Regions from separate parts of the Homo sapiens genome. Here region 1 is linked to region 2. Evidence: fine-mapped expression QTL. A gene starts in region 2. The other region holds a variant in brackets. All regions are shown on one strand. Distances are between the middles of the regions. Region 1 overlaps SCLT1 (sodium channel and clathrin linker 1). Region 2 holds the start of JADE1 (jade family PHD finger 1).

Region 1 (5,382 bases), 130 kb after region 2:
TGTGCAAGCCTCCTGAGGCCACTTGACCCCTGCTGCTATCTTAATAATTTTTGAATTATTAGATTCTGCAAATTTAGATTGCCTGCCCTTTCTCCTTCCCTTCCTTAATCTTCATCTCCTCTGGAGAAGTCATGTTGGTCTAACATCTCAGGTGGAAAACAAAAAGTACAGCCCCTGTGAGTTCTTTCTTATGAACACATGTTAAAAACTGATCTATGGGCCAGGTGTGGTGGCTTATGCCTGTAATCCCAGCATTTTGGGAAGCTGAGGCAGGCAGATTACTTGAGGTCAGGAGTTCGAAACCAGCCTGGCCAACATGGTGAAACTCCATCTCTACTAAAAACACAAAAATTAGCCAGGCGAGGTGGTGGGTGCCTGTAATCCCAGCTACTCAGGAGGGTGAGGCAGAAGAATCGCTTGAACCTGGGAGGTGGCAGTGGCAGTGAGCCAAGATCACGCCATTGCACTCTAGCCTGGGCAACAGAGCTTCTCAAACAAACAACAAAAACAACAACAACAACAAACCACATATGCACACAAAACTGATCTATGCATCTGTACAGTTTTAGAATTTGGCTGCCTAGTTAACTCCCCATTTTCACTTGGAAAATCTATTTATCGTTTCACAAGCTTTGCTTTAAGACCCTTTATGATAACCTGGTCCCTGCTTACTTTTACAAGCTTGTGTTGTGCCACACTATTCCCTTGCCTTTCTTTTATTTCCACTATAATGCCTTTTTATTCTTTGGTTCTTTTCACATGCTGTTTCTTTTGCCTGAAATAATCTCTTTCTGCTTACCTATTTCAACTTTTGGAACACAGTACGGTTGTCAAAACATATTTGCAGATTGAATGGTGGCTTTTTGATGTCAAAATTCAGTCTCGAACAAGCACCATAGCCTTTAGTATATACAATTCGAATTACTACCTAAATTGGACAGGTCTGTGGTAATGCTGACAGGCTAAGGGCCACAACAACTGATCTCCGATTACAAAAATTCTATTAATGATAAAATTCAGAATGTTGGATGGGAAAAGGGGTTTTATGGTCTCTCTTCTTTCTTGCTTCTTCCTTCCTTTACAGAGAAATATCCACACAAGTAGATAACTGAATTGCTGGAAACGACTCCATTTCTTAATTTTAGATGGTAATGAGGCGGAATTTAGACCATGAAGAAATGGAGAGCCCTGGCAAAAGGAGTGGTTAGAAAAGGAGAAAGCGAGGGCTGAAATCAATGCAGTGGCATTAAGATCAAATGAAAACTTCATATGATAAATTGTTAAGGTTTGTAGCCAACTGACCTCCCAATATCTCACTGTCTTTATCTTTTTGGCTTCTTTCAGTTTATCTACTGAAGATCATACTCTTTTGCAAGAGGGAGAAAAACAGCAAGGTGTAGGTGCACCAGGTTCCTATTTTGTCAAAGAAAGAATCAGTTACAAAGCAATTTATCTTACAGCCTTCTTCCTCCATAAAATAGAATTATAGCTAGTTAGTTAAGACGTTCGGCTCTTTATCAATGGCTATTCTCTTAAGCTAGATACAGATTTGGTGAGATATGTGGGGTAGATAAACTTTCTATTACTCTTTTGTTGTCCATAACATCAGTTACTATCCTGAAATGTTAAAGACGGATCTAGTGGAGTACTAGATAGGAAAAATTCATTGATTCCATCCCCACTCATTATAAAAAAAAGAAAGCAAAACAAATACATATTGTAAAATTATGGAAAATAACAAAGCATTAAAGTGAAATGTTAAAGACGGATCAACTGGAGTACTAGATAGGGAAAATTCATTGATTCCATCCCCACCCATGATTAAAAAAAAGAAAACAAAACAAATATATATTATAAAATGATGGAAGATACAAAGCATTAAAAAGACAACTATAAGGTCCCTCTATTCCCAAAACTCAGATAATCCCTTCTAACTTCTACATAATTGTTTTTATTTATGAATTCTAAAATTGTTATTACAGTATGTAAAGGATTACTACATGTATGTGTGTATACACATAAATTTTTCAATCATAGGGTGTATCAATATAAATGCATTATAAATTATTTGGAAATATAGTTTTTAATGACAATACAGTATCTTATTAAAAACATATACACTATATGTCAAAAATACATATGTGTACACACAGGTAGTAATCCTTTATACACTATAGTAACAATTTTAAAATTCATAAATAAAAGCAATTATGTAGAAGTTAGAAGTATTATCTGAGTTTTGGGAGTAGAGGGACTTTATATATTTTTTTTAATGTTTTGTATTTTCCATAATTTTACTATACATATAGATGTAACATATTTACTTCTAGATATTTAGGTTGTTTCTAATTTATTATAAATAATGCTGCAATGAACTTATTTATGAAATATTTTAATTACTTTCTTATGACTGAATTTTAGACTCTAAAGTAAATACG[T/C]ACCATTTAATACTTTTAGCTGCACGTTCACTTAGAGATACTTAGCAATTAATTAATGGTGAGTTTAAACTGCTTACTGCCTACTGTTTTTTTTTCTTAGATTGCAGATTCTGTTCAACTCTCACATGATTTTTTATTCGGTTACAAATAGTTTTCTCTTATATTTTTAAAAGCTCTTTAGATAAAAGCATGGGAAAACCTGCCCCCATGATTCAATTACCTCCCACTGGGTCCCTCCCATGACACACTGGGATTATGCAACTACAATTCAAGATGAGATTTGGGTAGGAAGACAGCCAAACCGTATCAGGATGTATGTATGTCTGGCTTTAAAAGATAATGCTACATTCCCAGCAGTATCTATCAAAGTTCTAATTGCTTTATATTCTTAAAAATACTTGATATTTTTAGTCTTTTTAATTTTAGCCATTCTGGTGGTGTGTAGTGTTATCTTGTAGTTTTAATTTAAATTCTCCTAAAAAATAATGAAGTTGAACATATTTGCCTATATGCTATTTTATGAAGTGCCTACTTAAGTCTTTTGGCCTTTTCTGGAAATGGAGTATCTATTTTTTTCTTTATTAGCTATTAGCTGTTTTTTCCTTATTAATATTTTTCTTATTAATTGGTAAAAGTTTTTATATTTTGGATATGAGTTCTCTTTTTGGTTATATGCACTACAAATACTTTCTCCCACTTTTCCCTTTCTTAATGGTGTCTTTTGGTGACTAAAAATATCTTAATTTTAGTGAAATCCAGTTCAGCTTGGATTTTTCACCATGGTTAGTGTTTTTTTGTGCTCTGTTTAAGAAATATTTCAAACCCAAAGGCAAGAAGATTTTCTCCTAGAAACTATCATTTCACATTTCACATTTAGGTCTACAAAGCAGCTCCAACTAATTTGCATATATGCTGTGATATAGGAGTTAAGTTTTATTTTTAAAATATGGATCTGACTGATCTAGCACCATTTGTGAAGCCAGTTTTCCCCCCACTGAACTGCAATGGTGCCTTTGTTATAAATCAAGTGATTATGATAAATGAGTTTGTTTCTAGACTCAATTTTTTGCCATTGATCAAGTTGATTATTCTTATGTTGATAACACATTGTCTAAATTATTTTAGCTTTTTATCAAGTCTTGATATCTGGCGGTATGGGTCCTCTCCTTGTTCTTCAAAGAACTCCCATAGTCTAAAGGTCAAAGTACAAACTTCTTTTTAAATAAGACTCTCTTTTTCATTTCGGAGTTCAAGGTTTTACAAATAACTAGGGCATTTCATACCTGCAATAGGAGGCATTCAATAAATTTATGTTGACATGAATTAGGTTGGAATATGACTTCTTAGGAGTCCTTGCAGCAATAAAAACCAAAATAAAACAGTGACATGACCTCTTCATATTCTTACTATGAAATTGGAAGATGTAGATATTTATCATAAAAAGTTAGTGCCACTTTTTACAAAAGTCTCATGACATGGGGAAAGGTAAGCAAGATGTTGATGAAGATTGTGTTACTTGAAAGTCCCTTAAAAAGAGGATCACCTTCCTATTACCAAACCATATAAGCATCAGAGGAGAAGGAAATAAGAGAGAAAAGAAAGGGAATTTGTTTTAGATGACATTTTTGCCTCTTGCCTTCTTCCTGCCATGGAATTTTCAGACTAGTTATGAATGGTTCTCAGAGCCTACTGCTTTAACATCCTCTATACAGTTAGTTTTAGAGAAGTTCAACTTTTCAAAGGCTACTACAGAGAGAGAAGAGAGGAAGGCAGTCTGTAAAGTTATCTAATCCATGGTTTTGCTAGTGCTGCTTAAATTGCTTTGGCAGGAATATCAGTATATTTCGTGGTTGGAAAAGAATTTTTTTGTGTGTAGCAAAGGCAATCATTTTCAAGTATGCCTGCCAAGTTCTACAACACAGAAATGATTGGTTAACACTCTGAATTATGATTTAGTGCTATCTGATGAGAAGGCAAAAAAAAAGGGGGCCTTAAAGATGTTTTGCTAGGTCTCTCTAAATATTCTCTATACTTTGATTTTCATAAGTACACATTTAACTCTAGTCTTGAAAATACCTTTACTTTGGCTTTTTTTTGAGCCTCCAGGGCAATCTTCCTTAAACTCTCAGTCTCTTTCCGTAACTGTTTATTTTCTTGCTGAAGTTTTAGCCTTTGTTCACTGACAAGCCCACAGTTCTCTCTCTCAGACTCCAATACATTTTGAAGTTTCTGAATCATTTCTTGGTAACGTGATATTTCTTCTGAGGAGCTGATTAAAAAACGAAATGAAAAGAATCCTTAAACTTAATGATCTATAGTAGAAGATAAAAGTCTGTCTACATTTTATCACATGGACTTTTGTTTGCTTTATTCTGAGCCATTTCTTTCCACTTTAGACTGAAACTATGTGGTTTCAAAATGTTATGTTATACCAGGCAAATACATTCAACTTAAATATATTCAAATTTTAACTAAGAACAGATGAATTGAACTGTTATCACTTATCTAGAAAATCAATGTGAGACTTCTTTCAAATTTGTACTAACATTAAGAATCACTGTGTATGGAGAACTTCAAGGAAATGAACTGAAGCAACAAAAAAAGGATGAAGCGGATAATAACCAAAACTCCTTTACTTAATCAATAAACTCCATGGACTAACACAATAGCTGACTATATTACTAAATTATAAAATCTACTTTTATATTTTTCCATTATATGTCTTAGAAATACTTTTTATAAACTTCTAGTTCTGTAAACTTCTTGTTTTATCATAGGTTAAACGGATTATATTTCCTGAACTGTCTCAACAATGGACCACTGATCACTGGGTGAGACAACCTCTATACATTAATGTTGCTTCAAATCAATATACTGCTAATTTTTATTCCTATCTTTTAAAACTTCCATCTTTTCAATAACAGATAAGCACTGTGAACATTCC
Region 2 (5,382 bases):
CTCCTGCCGGGTTCACGCCATTCTCCTGCCTCAGCCTCCCCAGCAGCTGGGACTACAGGCGCCCGCCACCACACCCGGCTAATTTTTTGTATTTTTAGTAGAGACGGGGTTTCACCGTGTTAGCCAGGATGGTCTGGATCTCCTGACCTCGTGATCCGCCCGCCTCTGCCTCCCAAAGTGCTGGGATTACAGGCATGAGCCACCGCGCCCGGTCGACAAAAATTTTCTTAACATGAATGCGTGAAGTAAGGCTGTTTGGAATTTAGAAAAGTTGCAATTTTTGATGGAGAGAAAACCAAGAAGGAGTTGAGTGATGGCCGAGGGAGTGGACAACCTCCTACTGCCAGGGCCTCTACTCCTGAACTGTTATGAGGTTGCCTGATTCCTCTTAACAACCCTTCAGGTTAGGGGCCAGCTGTTAACTTAATTTTATTACCAGGGAAGAAACTGAGGCTCAGATAAAGTTCTTTTATCCCACAGGCACACAAACTGCTAACTGATAGAGCCAGATCCAGCCATGTCTGGCTACAAAGCCTGTGTACTTTAACTTCTACAGAGAGTATGTGCGAGGTGAACCAGTAAAAATAACAATAACAAGTGCAATACTAAGAATAGTAATAATGATAGTTAACACAGTGCTTTACATGTGTGATCGCTTTGAACAGGATTAAGTGAACACATGAATAGGACTGGCAGGGAGTCTTTCTACTCTTCATTAGCGAAACAGGAGAGGACATATACAGTACTTAGGATTTCCACTGGCTTACTTTGTTTTCTGAAAAATAACTGAAAGGCTCAATTAGTTTTGTTTTGTCGCATTTATCAGATTATAACGTTCTGGATGTGGGTCTGGATGTGGGTAGTTGGGCTGGTGTGGGATTACATGAAATCAAACCTGATATATTCAGAAAGATTCTTCCGGTGGACACATATGCCTTTTGGGTTCGATATTCAATTTTGTAATTAGTGATCACTGTTCCTATTTATTTATTTATTTATTTGAGACGGAGTTTCGCTCTTATTGCCCAGGCTGGACCACAATGGCGCATTATCGGCTCATCACAACCTCCACCTCCCGGGTTCAAGCGATTCTCCTGCCTCAGCCTCCCCAGTAGCTGGGGTTACAGGCATGTACCACCATGCCCGGCTAATTTTGTATTTTTTAGTAGAGACAGGGTTTATCCATGTTGGTCAGGCTGGTCTTGAACTCCCGACCTCAGGTGATCCGCCCACCTAGGCCTCCCAAAGTGCTGGGATTACAGGCGTGAGCCACCGCGCCCGGCCTGAATGGGAGTTTTTAATCCGTACTTTTTTCTTATTGAAGTTGAATGTCATATACCCCTCTATTTCCCTAGATGAATCCATGAAAGAAGTATGTTGCCCTCTATATGAAAAAGCAAGCTTGTCTTCTGCAGAAAATCAGTAACCACTCCTTTTTACACATAAATACCCCCAAATGAATCTCCGATGACTGATCTGATACTAGTCTGCAATTCTAGTTTTAGCATTAGGCTCACTCCTCATATTTGGGAGAAGATGTCCAATTCTGTAGTAATGTGTAACATAAAGTGGTGTCAATTTATAAATAATATCTTCTAATGAATTAATGCTCATTTGCAATGATCACTTCCATACAAATTTAGGTAAAGATGTTATTCAGAATTGGATTCTCTCTATTTAAAAATGTCATCCTAATGTGCAACTCCCTAAAACTGTTACTACAAACAACTATTTTGCCACTCAGCCTAAAAATAAAACCTTTCACCCAAATGACACATCTTAATAGCCATATTTTAATCTACGTAATTTTAAACTATTCTGAAAGAATCCATTTCTAGATGTCAGACAAGAGTTGAAACTGGGACAGCAGTTTGAAGGGGCTAATTTAAAAACCCACTTGCTTGGAGACACCTCAAGAATTTCTAGGCTCACAAGGTGGGTGAAGTAAGGAAAGAGACTAAGAGCTGAACAGTGCCGTTCTTTGCGAGCCCCCACTGGCGCAGGCTGAGCCGGCTGCGGCTAGGGCTGCGAAGAGTTAACGAGGGACCGAGCCCCAGCGCCGCGGGCTCCCCGCATGCTCCCTCCGCCCTCCCGTCCCCACCCTCTCGTTTTGGCAAGGGATTAAAGTGCTCCCCCCTGTGGCAGCAGTGACCCAGAAATGAGTTTGATTCACATAGTCCTTCCTCCATAACAAGCCAAACGCCAGACCGAGAGTGCCTCCGTGCGCGAGTGCCCGGTGTGTGCGCGCCGGCGAGAGCAGGGGCCCGCCCGGCTCCCCGCCCGCCGCGGCCCGAACTCATGCAGCTCCGAGCGAGCGAGCGGCGCCCAGCCCAGCGCCTCGGCCGAACCCCTCCGCAGCAGGTACGCGCGCGGGCCGCGGGGGGCGCGCGGGGTGGGCGCGCCGCGCGTGTGTCCGCGCGTGTCCGCGTGTGGGTCCGTGTGCGCGTCCCGGTCCCGCGGCGGCGACGGCGGCGGCGGCGGCGGCGGCTGCAGGACGAGCCGAGAGGCTCAGCCATATTTGATGGTTTTGTTGCTTTGCTCGGGAGTTCTCGGGAGTAATTTAATGCCGAAGGTCGCTGCCTAGTGGAAATAATATAATACGTCATTAATATGGCGCCAAAAGATTGGGTTCTCGATCTGTAGCGAGGAGGGAGGGAGGCAGCCGCTGAGCGCAGCGTTACTATCCCACCAGTAACTTGGGCATTGCCGGGGCGGGGGCCGGAGGAGGAGGAGAGGATGATTTTTGGATCCTGAGAATTGATCTATGTTGGATCAGTAAGTTTTATTATGATTTTTTTTTTCAAATTTGGGGGGCTGAAGACTTAGAGCTATTTCTTCTTTTGGATTTGCGAAGAACATGCGGTTTTCAGGTGAATCATCAATTAAACGCGTTTAGGAGCAGAAGCCCAGTTTAAGTTGGCTTTAGTTTATAGGTTTTTTTTTTTTTTTTTTTTTTTTAGAAAGCCAAAGTGCATTAGGCTGCATGAAAGTGGAAAGCATAGTAGCAACTTGGTAGACAGATGGCAATGGCAGAACGCAGGTTCGCGTACATATATGAATCCAGAGTGTGTGAGACCGTGTGTGTGGTGGGACTGTATTTGTCCAAACATAGGTGTGCGTAGGTACATCTGTGTGTGGTGGCCGCAGCCCTGGCTCTTGTCACCGCGTCACCACATGTCCAAAATATTCATTGCATCAATTCAAGGGCAGTGAGAGGGGGGTGGGGGTGGGGGTGGAGGGACAGTTTGGCAATTAGATTCTTCCGAACTGGGCTTCCAGTGATCAGATCTTTTACTTACAGCGCGACTGCTTGTAAAGTGTAAAACCCCTTAATCGATGAAATGGGGTAGGAGTTGGCGTTGGTAGAGCAAAGTACCGATTAATCGTGAACTTAAAGGGGATTGCAAATTGCAACCTTTGGCACCATCTGCAAATTGTGGGGGTGGGGTCTCTTGGTCTCCTTGCTTCCTTAAATGAACGTGTAGTGTGTACCCCGGGACTGCAAGTTGCAGAGCCCTTCAGTGCACGTGTCTTGTGCCTGTGAGTCTGTGTTTGCGAGTTGGGGGCTGTTGTTCGGTAGCCAGCAGGCTTTCCGGGTTGCTCGGCATTGGCTTGCAAATGCGGGAGAGGGATGGAATGTGGAATGTTGACCGGGGAACCGAATCCTGTCGGAACGGTCCCATTTGCTGGAGAAATTCGATCCCTTCCACCTCCTTCCCGCTCCCCCCCGCCCGCCTTCGGGCAGGAGGCGGGGCTGAGGACGCGGCTGCTGCTCAAAGTGGCGGAGCGCGGCGGCGGGAGGCAGGTGCACGGCACCCGCCAGTGGGGGTGCCTCAACTTCCGCGGGCGTTTAAATAGCAGCCTCTCTCCCCTCCCACCGGTAATAGGTGACCTGGCGGCCGAGGGCGGCGGGGGAGGGAACCGGGGGAGACTCGGGAGCGAGCCTCCGCGGCACGTGGGCAGGTGCTGGGTGGCCCCGGGGCCAACTTTTGTAGCCCGCCTCTGGTGTTTGAGGAGAGGCGGCCCAGTGTGGAAATGGGGGCGGGCGGCGGCCGAGGCGCTGCTTCTCCGCTGCGGCCGGAGCGTCACCTAACGGTCCCAGCTGCGCCGCCCGGGCCGGGGTGGGGGGTTGCGGGGGCGGGGACGCCCGGCCCGCCGCGCCCGCCCCGCACAAAGCCCGCGGCGCGGGGGTGGCCGCTGCGCCCCCGCCCCGGGAACGGCCCGAAGCCCGACGCGGTCCCCGCGCCGGTTCCGGCGGGCGGCCGCAGGCGTTTGTTTGTTGGTTCCGCGCCGCCTTCCTCGCCGGATGGCTTCCTGTGACAGAGGTGATACACAGTTTCCAGAACTGTCTGGGGGCGGGAGCGGGAGCGGGAGCCGAGCCCGCTCGGAGCTCCTCGCCGCCGCTGCCGCTCCCATCTTAAAACCGTTTCTCGCCGGCGCGCCCGCCCCAGCCCGAAGGTGCCGCCCCGGAGGGACTCGGGGAGGGGGACGGCGCGGCCGTTTCCAGCGGCGCAAGTGGCTTCTGGACGCGAGGGAGCGTTTGATTTGCAACTGGGGCCGAGCGGATTGGTGCAGCTGGCGGCGGCGGGGCGGGAGGAGCTGCCGCGGCGGGGGGTGGCCACTTTCAAATGGAGAGGGCGGCGGCGGCGGGGACGCCGCTGCGGAGGGAGCGGGGCTTGGTTGCGCCACGAGAAGGTGTCATCACTGCACCGGGGCTAATTCCGGCGGAGGTGCCGGGAGTTACTTTCCCCTCCTCCCGCGCTGTTGTTTCTGTCGCCTCGGGAGGAGGAGGAGGAGGAGGATTGGGAGAGAGGGAGGGGTCGGCGCCGCGCGGAACCGCGGCCCTGCGCATTCCCCGGCGGGCGGCGGGAGCCGCGCGGAGCGTTCGCCGCTGCGGGGCGGCGGCCGAGCTCCCCCACAACCCCGGGGTGCCCCCCTTGCTGGGATCCTTAGCCTTCTCACGTCCCCTCTCACTCCGCCACCCTCCCACTAGAGCTCCTTATTCTCGAGTCCTCAACCCCGGCTTGGCGCGTCCCGGGTCTCCCCTCGCCCCAGGATTCCTCCCGCGCCAGGCTCCGCTGGCCCCAGGTTTCCCACCCCAAGCGGGTGGGGGCGGCCGCAGTCCCGGCGCCGGTGAATGCTGAGAGCAAACAAAAAAGCGGGCGATTTAAACATGCCTTCGAAACCCGTTAGGAATGCGTCGTCATCCGGAGACCGTTTAAAAGGAGCTTTAGCTTGCCTTCTAGTAACGAGAGGGCTGGCGCCCTGCCTTACTTCGGCAGGGGCGAGGGGCTGTCGCCCTCTATTTGCCCCGGCCAAGAGGGAATTTAAATTTTCTTTTGTAAAATGACAGCTGCAGTGAATGACCTGAGACAGCTACGT

Evidence for each region. PIP is the estimated chance that this variant, and not a neighbour inherited with it, causes the effect. A credible set is the group of variants that fine-mapping cannot tell apart.
Region 1: its variant is the best candidate, but not a certain one, in a credible set for the expression of JADE1 in whole blood (TOPMed, PIP 0.54).

Annotation. Positions count from the first base shown.
Region 1 is chr4:128,938,482-128,943,863 of GRCh38, forward strand. It overlaps SCLT1 (sodium channel and clathrin linker 1), which reads right to left. Exons shown (of 21, transcript NM_144643.4): 17 at 4,515-4,707. Among named protein-coding and RNA genes, the nearest start is that of JADE1, 130 kb to the left of the region's middle. The variant T/C (reference allele first, on the strand shown) is at 2,439.
Region 2 is chr4:128,807,517-128,812,898 of GRCh38, forward strand. It overlaps JADE1 (jade family PHD finger 1), which reads left to right and starts at 2,184. Exons shown (of 11, transcript NM_199320.4): 1 at 2,184-2,361. RefSeq lists silencers at 2,007-2,486, 2,997-3,116, 3,747-4,026, 4,147-4,246, 4,427-4,996 and an enhancer at 2,587-2,696.